Linked DNA regions of Homo sapiens: region 1 is linked to region 2. Evidence: fine-mapped expression QTL. A gene starts in region 2. The other region holds a variant in brackets. All regions are shown on one strand. Distances are from middle to middle.

What was found. PIP is the estimated chance that this variant, and not a neighbour inherited with it, causes the effect. A credible set is the group of variants that fine-mapping cannot tell apart.
Region 1: its variant is the best candidate, but not a certain one, in a credible set for the expression of RBBP5 in naive CD8 T cells (Schmiedel 2018, PIP 0.60).

The regions. Positions count from the first base shown.
Region 1 is chr1:205,188,273-205,193,647 of GRCh38, reverse strand. All of the region lies in intron 1 of DSTYK (dual serine/threonine and tyrosine protein kinase), which reads left to right. Among named protein-coding and RNA genes, the nearest start is that of DSTYK, 21 kb to the left of the region's middle. RefSeq lists an enhancer at 1,545-2,089. The variant G/TG (reference allele first, on the strand shown) is at 3,033.
Region 2 is chr1:205,119,746-205,125,099 of GRCh38, reverse strand. RBBP5 (RB binding protein 5, histone lysine methyltransferase complex subunit) reads left to right here and starts at 3,122. Exons shown (of 14, transcript NM_005057.4): 1 at 3,122-3,245. The coding sequence starts at 3,227. RefSeq lists a silencer at 2,145-2,439 and enhancers at 2,801-3,020, 3,161-3,340, 4,504-5,062.

The DNA.
Region 1 (5,375 bases), 69 kb before region 2:
CCACCCACCTGGGCCTCCCAAAGTGTTGGGATTACAGGCATGAGCCACTGTGCCCGGCCAGGGTTTCTAGTTTCTATGGTCTTGAGGAAGAGGAATTCTGGTTTCTGTGAGTAGCTTAAGGGGAGAAAAAGGGGAGGCAGACAGGAGGCTAGGAGAAGGTCAGAGAGCAACCTTGCTTCTGAAGCCTTCCAATCTCCTTTAGTTCAAAGTGCTCAGCATGCCAAAGCACCATACTTTGGGCTATTGTTTTCTGAGCCTGATGGGATGGAAAATAGGCAAGAAGGAGAATGTGTTGCTACAAATCGATTGACATTACCCCAAAAACAATTTAAATAAAGTATGTATCTTAAAGAGTCACTAGCAACAGAAACAGGTCACGAGTATTTCCTCCCTCCCATCTTCTCTTTTCAGAGTAGTCACCCAAACAGTAATACACACTGACTGTTGAGCAGAGCACTAAGAATTTCTCTGAAAAGAGCCTACTGTTTCTTTTAGCAAAGAGACTTTAGAGATCTCAGGTAGAATAACATTTTTTGAAAGTGTGTACCAGCCAGTGGTAATGCTGCGGTTTTCTCCATATGCTTTATTCCTCATGGTTTGGGGCAACTTTCATAGGGATTGTATCAGTCTGCTTTACATTGAGGTCCTACAGTTACTAAATTGCATTTGACCCCAGACTGGAAAACAATGTGGCGTAGGGGTCATTGTCTACTGGCCCCCAGAGCTCTGCAGTTCACTGCTGAGAGAAATGGAGAAACCTGAGCTGTTTCTTGTTTTTTCTTTTTGAAATGGAGTTTCGCTCTTGTCACTCAGACTGGAGTGCAATGGCGTTATCTCGGCTCACTACAACCTCTGCCTCCCGGGTTCAAGCAATTCTCCTGCCTCAGCCTCCCGAATAGCTGGGATTACAGGCGTCGGCCACCATGCTTGGCTAGTTTTTATATTTCTAGTAGAGATGGGGTTTCACCATATTGGCTAGGCTGGTCTCGAACTCCTGACCTCAGGTGATCCACCTGCCTTGGCCTCCCAAAGTGCTGAGATTACAGGCATGAACCACTACGCCCAGCCTGGTTTGGTTTTTTGAGCATCCATTTCCTCATCTTTATTATTATTATTTTGTGAGGCAGGTGACTCACCCAGGAGAGTCTCACAGTAGCGTGATCACAGATCACTGCAGCCTCGACCTCCCCAGGGTCAAGGAGTCTTCACACCTCAGCCTCCTGAGTAGTACATCACCATGCCTAGCTGATTTTTTAAAATTTTTAGTAGAAACAAAGGCACGGCGGGGGTTGCTCCCTTTGTTGCCCAGGCTGGTCTCGCACTTCTGAGCTCCATCCATCCATCCATGTCGGCCTCCCAAAGTCCTGGGATTATAGGCGTGAGCCACCATGCCTGGTCCATTTCTTCATTTTTAAATGGAGTTAATAATAGTCCTTGTCTTGTAGAATTGTGAGCATTAAATGAAATGAAGCAAATAAAGTGATCAATACATAGAAAGGGCTCAATAAATGTTATGTAAAACAAAAACCAAAATAGGTTGCTGCTTTAGTTGTTCTTCTCTTCCATCTAGCTTGAAACTTTTGTTTAGAAGTAAACAAAAATCAAAATCTGTATTTAAGAACAACCACCAAGAACAACAACAACAACAGAAGCCTTGGTTTGCACTTAAGACAATTTGATATGATTTTTCCTCCAGCCAGAGTTGGCAGGGTTAATGTGAGCCAGCTGAGAAGCCATGCTGTTACCTTCTGGCAGCCCATATGCAGATGCTGTTGTATTAATTACAAAAGAAAACTCGATTAACTTGAAGTCCTTTAACTGTCAGTGAGGCAGCTGCTCCAGCTCTGAAACAGGTTTTCTTCCTCCCTCCTACTGTCAGTCTACAGCTTTTAATCTCTTCTTTAGAGAACTGCTAAGACTGCACTGTAGGTCCTCAGAGCCCCTGGCTAGTTCAGTCTACTTTTTGTTCTGCAGTTATAGTGGTCCAAGGGGCACTTGCGTAATTAAATTCACATATAATTTAAAATAAAATAAAAACCACCACACCAACCACCCATCCCCCTCACATCATTGGTCTTTCAGCAGTTAAAACCTGGCATTTTAGAACTGGAAAGCATGTTAAAGATTATCTAATCCAACTCCACCCCCCTCCATTTACCGACGAGCATTTCAAGGCTCAGAAAGATCGAGTGGATTGCCAAGGTCACAGAGCTAGTCAGAGTGGCAAAGCCTGCCTTCATTCTCGTGCTGTTCCCACTTCCATATTGCATTCCACCACATCACTGAGCAGTGTGCAAGAATCCAGGAGTAAAACCATCTGCTTTCAACTTCATTTCTCTCCATGCCCTTGTTCAAATCTGGTAGAGATGTCAAATGGATGAAAAAGCTAAAGATTTAGTGGGAGAAGCAAAGAGCTTGGATAGTGACATGTTGGAAAACAAAGACGGTGATGTTTGCCATGGACTTCTAACAGTGTACTGGGATCAACTTCAGCACCCTTTCCTACTGCGCTGGTCTTTGGTCGTTTTGACAGTAGCAAGTTTATTTGTGGTGACTTTTTGTAGGAAAGATGGAGGGGGGAAGTGTTCATTTGGGTCAGATGAATAATGGGGTGTGTCTGCTCTGGTTTTGGCTGATGCAGCCTGTTTCATTGGCTGTCCTGTAGTTGACACTTTGTTTCAGAGGTGCAGAGGCTCTCTCCCTCTCGTCCTGAAAAGTGATTTAGTCGGTTTTCTTCTCTATTATCCACTCTCCTGGTAGTAGCAGTAACAAAGGTTATTTAGTTTTGTTGGTCTTTTTGTGATGAAACCATTTTTATTATAGGAATTTAAAGGTTGTCAGTATGCATTCATGCGTAGACACTTATGTGAAAATCTGGGGAGGACAGGGAATAGAAGAAAGCTAGGAAGTGTAGGTGAGGTGAAGACAGTCTAGCTGGACTTCTCACTGCTCGAGCTGAGACTATGGTAGTTAAATTCCACAAGATGAATGGAAGGGTCCTACTCTTGGGTTTTTTTTTTTTTTTTTTTTTT[G/TG]AGATGGAGTCTCGCTCTGTTGCCCAGGCTGGAGTGCAATGGCGTGATCTTGGCTCACTGCAACCTCCGCTTCCCGGGTTAAAGCGATTCTCCTGCCTCAGTCTCCCGAGTAGCTGGGATTACCACCACGCCCAGCTGATTTTTTGTATTTTTAATAGAATCAGGGTTTCGCCATGTTGGCCAGGCTGGTTTCGGACTCCTGACCTCAGGTGATCTGCCCACCTCCACCTCTCAGACTGCTGGGATTACAGGTGTGAGCCACTGCACCTGGCTGAAGGGTCCTATTCTTTTATCCACATGAAGGAGGTTTTTAGGAGTGATGGTTGCTCTTAAACTATTCATCATGATACTGGACTTTTCAAAGTACTCAGTGGGTTTGCTTACAGCTTTCTATAGGTAGCTGTCCCCACTAAATGGATTCTCAGACAAAACAAACAAATCTATGACATTAAGCCCTTGGTAAGTGTCAGGCATTGTGTTGGGTGTTGAGGATGAAATAGGATGGTTCTTCCTGCTTTAGATGATTATAAACAGGTAATTAGAATAAAGCATGGTAGGTGTTCTGCAGTTGAGAATAAGGTATGAAGGAACTCAGGACTGGCCTGTTGCTACTTGTTAAGTGGCCACACAAGCAATTTGCTGTGTCCTCTTGCTTTTAGGTTGTAGATCAAAAGAGTAGACTAGTGGTCTGGTGTTATACTCTTGTATTTAGTAAATACCCTTGCACAGAATTATATACTTAGTTAACTCTGTTGGTTTTTGAAAGGCACTCATCTCTTTCCAAGGAGAGTAGATTTGCTTGTTTCAGTGTCTGGTGTTGCTGATGTATATGTGCGGGCCAGGCTGATATCCTTATAGACAGACATGAAAAGAAGGGCCCTAATGAAATGCATAGAGGGATCTGCGTGAACACAGACCTCTTTAACCCTTTTGGTGTTACTGTTTGTGGAAGAGAAGGATGCTTGGGGATTTGAAATCGTAGCTAGGTAGGTTCACTCTGAAGTAGAACCACCTCTTAATTGATTCAGGCCTCTTATGCTTCCAATTCTGGAAACAAACAAAATAAATGGCCTACAAATAATTTAATGCAGCTTATGGTTAAGTGACTAAAGCAAATACTGTTTCAGTTAGTGCCACCCAAAATTTCAGTTATGATGGATGTGTTTGGCTCAAGGATTGGCCCTTTTGCAGCCTAAGAACTGTGTCTGTGCTTTTCTGAACAAATGCAGGAATTGCCTGAATCTTAGAGATAGGCAGACACTGATACTGAAGGAATAAGGAAGTGATATAGTTCAGGCTGAGAGTTTCAGTGAACTAATTTCGGATTATTTTTCTCAAACACAGATTCTCATTCTTTAGGAAGCTTGTTCTGTCTTGAACATTATTTGAACGTGTTTGGGGAAGTTATCCATTTAGATTAGTAGTAGTTGCCTTGAAAGGAGAAGTTTTTTTTGTTTTTTTTTGTTTTAGATTTTTATTTTTTATTTTTTTTGTACAAAACGTAAGGGTGGTGAAAAACAGATTTTTTAAATTGACACATAGTAATTGTACATATTTATAGGATACATGTGGTATTTCGATATGTGGGTAACAATGTGGTAATGGTCAAATCAGGGTAATTGGGATGTCCATCAAGGAGAATGTTTTTGAAATAAATCACATCTCTTTCTAGATTTGCCTGGATTTTATCCTAATAGGCAGTTCTTTCCCTTTGTCCTATTTAGGGTCTTGTCTCCCATAAACAGAAGGAATGTGATTTGATTAGGAGGTATTGATGTTAATTGAGCACCCAGTGTTTTAAGGAAACAGATGACTTGGCAGCTGGGACGTTGTCACCAGCCATCAGAGAGATGAACTGGAAAAGATTCTAGAGCTTATGCAAACTTGAATAACATTTCATTTTATACATTTATACATTTTATACATTTATAGCTCATACATTTAGTAGTAAAATATGTCACAATGAAGAACATAAGCTAAAACCGCATATGGTAGATAATTTAAAAGGGCTCCATAGTGCTATATTATGTGCTGCATGATGGCATCTTGGTCAACAAAGGTACAGTATTTTTAGCATACGTTTTCTATGTTTAGATATGTTTAGATACACAAATACTTACCACTGTGTTACAGCTGTCTATAGTATTCAGTACAGTAACATGCTGTACAAGTTTGTAGCCTAGGAACAATAGGCTACACCCTATAGCCTAGGTGTGTAGTAGGCTATACCCATACCACCTAAGTTTGTGTAAGTACACTCTGATGTTTACACAATGACAAAATTGCCTGATGATGCATTTCTCAGAATGTATGCCTGTTGTTAAGCAACACACGACTGTAATC
Region 2 (5,354 bases):
TCTTGAGAGAATTCTCTTACAAGAATTTTGGGTGCTCTTCTTTTAGTTTGTCAACTTTGTCGTTGTAAATATCTAATTGTGACTTAATTTGCATTTTACTGATTACTGATGAGATCTGGCGTTGTCAAATAGATCACTTCCCTTTTTTTGAAGTGCCATGGCTTGCTCTCTAATTTTTACAGGTTATTTAAACTTTCTTTTTTTTTTAAAAGAAAAAGGCCAGGCATGGTGACTCACCACCTGTAATGGCAGCACTTTGCGGGGCCGATGTGGGCAGACAGCTTGAGCCCAGGAGTTCGAGTCCAGCCTGGGCAACATGGTGAATCCCTGTCTACAAAAACTACAACAATTAGCTGGGCATGTTGGTGCCTGCCTATAGTCCCTGCTACTTGGGGGGACTGAGGTGGGAAAATCACTTGAGCCTGGAGGTTGAGCTGCAGTGAGCTGTGATCATGCCACTGCACTCCAGCCTGGACGACAGAGTGAGACTCTGTCTCAAAAAAAAAAAAAAAAAAGAAAAGAAAGAAAGAAAAGAAAAAAAAAGAAAGTCCAAATAGGATTGGAGGGGTAGAAAGGGAAAAAGAGGTGTGAGGAAAAAGGTGTACTGAAAATCCCTCAGTGGGCCGGGTGCTGAGTTGAGATTGCGCCACTGCACTCCAGCCCAGGCGACAAGAGCAAGACTCCCTCTCAAAAAAAAAAAAAAGAAAAGAAAAGAAAATTCCTCAGGGGTTTTCTAACACTATTTTTATTTTCATTTTATTTATTTATTTATTTTGAGATGAAGTCTTGCTGTTGCCCAGGCTGGAGTGCAATGGCATGATCTTGGCTCACTGCAAACTCCACCTCCTGGGTTCAAGCGATTCTCCTGCCTCAGCCTCCCTAGTAGCTGGGATTACAGACATGCGCCACCACACCTGGCTATTTTTTGTATTTTTGGTATAGACGGGGTGTCACCATGTTGGCCAGGCTGGTCTCGAACTCCTGACCTCGTGATACGCCTGGCCTCTGCCTCCCAAAGTGCTGGGATTACAGGTGTGAGCCACTGCACCTGGCCTCACTATTTTTATTTTTAACAGCTTTAATTTTAACTTCATTAGCTATATTAGCATCCAATCTGTAAAAATTATTACATTGGAATCAGGCGTGGTAGCTCACAGCTGTAATCTGTAATCCCTGCATTTGGGAGGCTGAGGCAGGAGGATTACTTGTGCCCAGGAATTTAAGGTTACAGTAGTGAGCTATGGTTTCGTCATTGCATTCCAGCCTGGGCAACAGAGTGAGACCATATCTCTAAATACATATATATATGATTACTTTGGATTTGAGAGTAGAGTCAGAGAATTTAGAGGAAACTAGGCTGTGGTTTTCACACGATATTTTTCCTTGTTGCTTTTGCCTTTATGCAAAGTTTTCCTTTGTCTTTGGAGAGTAGAAAAACTGTGGATTTTTTTTTTTTTGAGACAGAGTCTCACTCTGTTGTCCAGGCTGGAGTGCAATGGTGCGATCTTGGCTCACTGAAACCTCTGCCTCCCGGGTTCAAGCGATTCTCCTGCCTCAGCCTCCCGAGTAGCTGGGATAACAGGCATGAGCCACCACGCCCAACTAATTTTGTATTTTTAGTAGAGACAGTGTTTCTCCATATTGATCAGGCTGGTCTCGAACTCCCGACCTCAGGTGATCAGCCCGCCTCGGCCTCCCAAAGTGCTGGGATTACAGGCGTGAGCCACCGCACCCGGCTGCAAAAGACATACTTTATAAAGGTCCAAGGATAATGGAAATAGAAGACATTAATGTAATATGTTCTTGGGAACTAATTGGATACACCAAGTATTATCTTTGACTAGTTTCTGGACTTCTGCTTCATTCTGCAACCTGCAGCCAACTACCATGGTGTCCATCTATTATTAGGCGCTTTAAATAGCTCCTTAATTCACATTTACTCTCTTCAATCGATGTGTCAGACTGTGGGGGCCACTTAATTCCCATTCCAAATTCTTGGGAAAGGAATTTAATTGGGTTGAGCTTAGGTCAGGGGCTTACTGAAAGAGCAATCAACTGGGGCCCAGGGACAGGGTGCACTGTGTGAATGAGGCTGCTTTTTCTGCAAATTTGTCAAGTAGAGGCAGACTGGACTAGCTACATAATTTGCAGGGCCCTGGGCAACATGAAAATGCTGGGCTCCCTAGTTCAAAAGTTTCATTATTGTTTCCAAAAGTTTGCAATTGCAGACAATACTGCGATTAATAAACTTGTGTATGTGTATTTTTCCATTGTCGGAGACCTAGCCCGAGTACTATTTTCTGCAGCGAGCCTTTGACGTTGTTTCCTTTTTCTGATGAGCCACAGCATTTATAGTAGGAATTTGTTCATATAAAATTTGCTCTTTCGCTAGATACCAGTAACTGGACTTCTCTAATTGCTTTGGGTATTTCATTGGAGTTCTGTATGACTGAGCTCCGGGAAACTCAGTCCACCCCTCATTCCAATTCTTTTTCACAGTCTTTTTCACAGCGTCCCTGTCAACACTGTTTGGTAAAGGGTAAAACCTTAGATAATAAGGTTTTTATTATCTTAACACAGACAGGCCTAACATATGTTGTCGTACCTTTCTGTAGGATCAATAGCATATCTTTACAAATGAGAAATAATTTTCACGAGACCGAAACACCCTGCAACGCCACCTACATACAGGGTAAGTACGCGCCTTGGTGAGGTCAGCGGCGCTACACACCCGAGCACTAGGGGACGACCTTCCCTGGTTTCTTGCATTAGCAGGACTTGTCCGGAACCTTTCCTGCGGAGTCTGAGGTAGCCCGCCCGGACAACGCCGCTGAACACACAACAGGGCAAGAACTAGTAGGTTAACTGTATGCCTGGAATTTCTACCTCACCTACATGTTCCCGGAGCAAATAATCTTAAATTGTCGCGCTATTTAAAGTCCCTAGTGACGATAACATTGTTGTACCTCAGCAAAGATCATAATTAATTGTTTCCGAGAGAGTGTATGCTTGATTTTGGTCAGGCATATATTTGGGCAGCCCACCTGAAACGAACAAGGAAGGCGGGGGAAGAAAGCGGAAGCCGCGGGGCCTTCTAAGGCCGAAAGTCTTCGGAGCTTGCGCCAGTCTCTTCGCGGCGTCCACCACTTAGACGCAAGTTGCTGAAGCCGGCCGGGGAGAAGGTGTTGTTGCCGGAGCTGAGACCGGGCGGCCACAGTCCGCAGGGATGAACCTCGAGTTGCTGGGTGAGAAGGGCTGTGGCTGCGTTTTAGAGAAGCGTTGGGTACTGGAAAGGAGGGAACCCAGGCGGGAGGGGAGTCAGGCTGCAATCTTAGGGACACTGTTCGGCTATGGATCACTGGGCACACCTGATGTGGAGCAGCAGCGGGAGGAGGAAGCCCACCTTCTGCCCGAGTAGGTTGCATTGCCCCTCCCGAGGCCACTTTCATATCAATTATGGAGCGATGGGGACAGACAGTTTGTGACTTAGCTTTGATTATGAGGATCGCAGGTGTTGAAGTACCCAGAGCAGCCAGGACCAGAGTTGTTGGAGATGGAATTTGAAGAAGTGAGGCTTGGGATGAAGCTTTGAAGACTTGTCAGGGAATTGGGTGCCTGAACAGGTTAATCTTTTTGTAGAAAAGAGAAGTCTAAGGAGGGGACTTGGAGATCTTCTGGTAGAAGCTTCTCATTGAACAGATGAATAAAGGCTCAGAGGGTAATGGCTAGGCACTAAGCAAGTAAATGGCATAGTTGGCACTGGAATCCAATTATCCTAACTTTCTGTTTAAGGTCCTTTGCTAGGGACGGTGTGTAAAACACTGAGGTGTGAAATACGGAGGGAGTTGTCTTTTGTCGCCCTCACTTTGAGTCATTGCCTCCTTACCTCCTATCCAGATTATTTAAAAACTGTAGGTCCTTTCTCCTGGACTTCCATTAGGTGACATTTAGCATGGTATTCTAGGGGTAGCTGAGGTTTTCAAGGACTTCTGCACTACTTGCTGTTCCTAATGGTTAGGTTTCTCTTTTAAAAAAGTCAGAAGATATGTTAATTGTCAAAAGGGCTACAAAGATACATAAAAAATGGTCTTTGCCCTTAAAGAGCTTTTCATTAAGCAGGGAGTTTAAGGTGATTATGTAAAATAGCTGTAGGATATTGCAGAATGTAGGCAGGCCTGAAAGAGTCATTACCAGTTGCTAAGAATGTTTGGAACAGAGAGTGAATGTCTTTGGGGTAAAGGAAGAAGTCAACCAGGAAAAACAAACCCCCCAAACCTGTGGAGGAGTTGGAGTTTTAAGTGGACTTTTTTTTTTTTTTTTAAGACAGCCTCGCGCCGTCGCCTAGGCTGGAGTGCAGTGGCACAGTCTTGGCTCACTGCAACCTCTGTCTCCTGGGTTCGAGTGATTCTCGTGCCTCAGCCTCCTGAGTAGCTGGTACTACAGGTGCGCACTGCCATGCCTGGCTAATTTTTGTATGTTTAGCAGAGATGGGGTTTCACTGTGTTGGCCAGGCTGGTCTCAAACTCCTGGCCCCAAGCAATCCACTCACCTCAGCCTCCCAAAGTGTCCGGCCTTAAGTGGATTTTTAAGGTTGGTAAAATATCAACAGGCTGAAGTATGAAAATATGGGAGGGATGTTCAGTAGGCATCAGTGAGAGAAGACCTAAAGAATTTTCCTGCTTGGCCAGGTTGTGGATAAAGAGAATGCCAGGGGATGGGATCGGTGCCATCTATTTTGTGTTGGTTCTCGAATGCCTAGCTCAAAAGTTTGGGCTTTTTAGGGAAGGTAGGGTAGATCCATTGAAGGATTTTGACTTAGTAACTCAATCAGAGCTATGAGTTTGTAAGGTTTGTCTGACAGCAATGTGGAGTTGAGTTTTGGAGGAGTGTAAAACCAGTTTGGAGGGGTAGATTATATGAGTGATGAGGAAGGCCTGAGCTAGGAAATAGAAAAGACATTGAGGAGGTAGGGATGACAAATTTGAGAATAGATTGCATATAGTGCTGATGAGTAAGAGAGTGACGTGAAAAATGGTGAGAGCAAATAATGATGCTGTTGATAAAGTGTAAGGTCATTGGAAAAAGACAGCTTTGGAGAAGCTGAATGTGGTCTAGGGGTCAGGAGACAGGTTTGGATTTATGGGAGAGATTTGTATTCTTTCAGATGGGCTCATTGAAACCTTGTGAATAGAGGACATGATCTAGAGAAAAAGTGGGAGGGGGAGAAAAGAAAATTGCCAAGCACACAATCTGTAGTTAGAGGTTAAGAGGAGGAATAAGTGGAGATAATAAGTTAGCTAACGGTTATAAAGTACTTTCTCTGAGCTAGGCAGATTTTCAAGTGCCTTCCATGT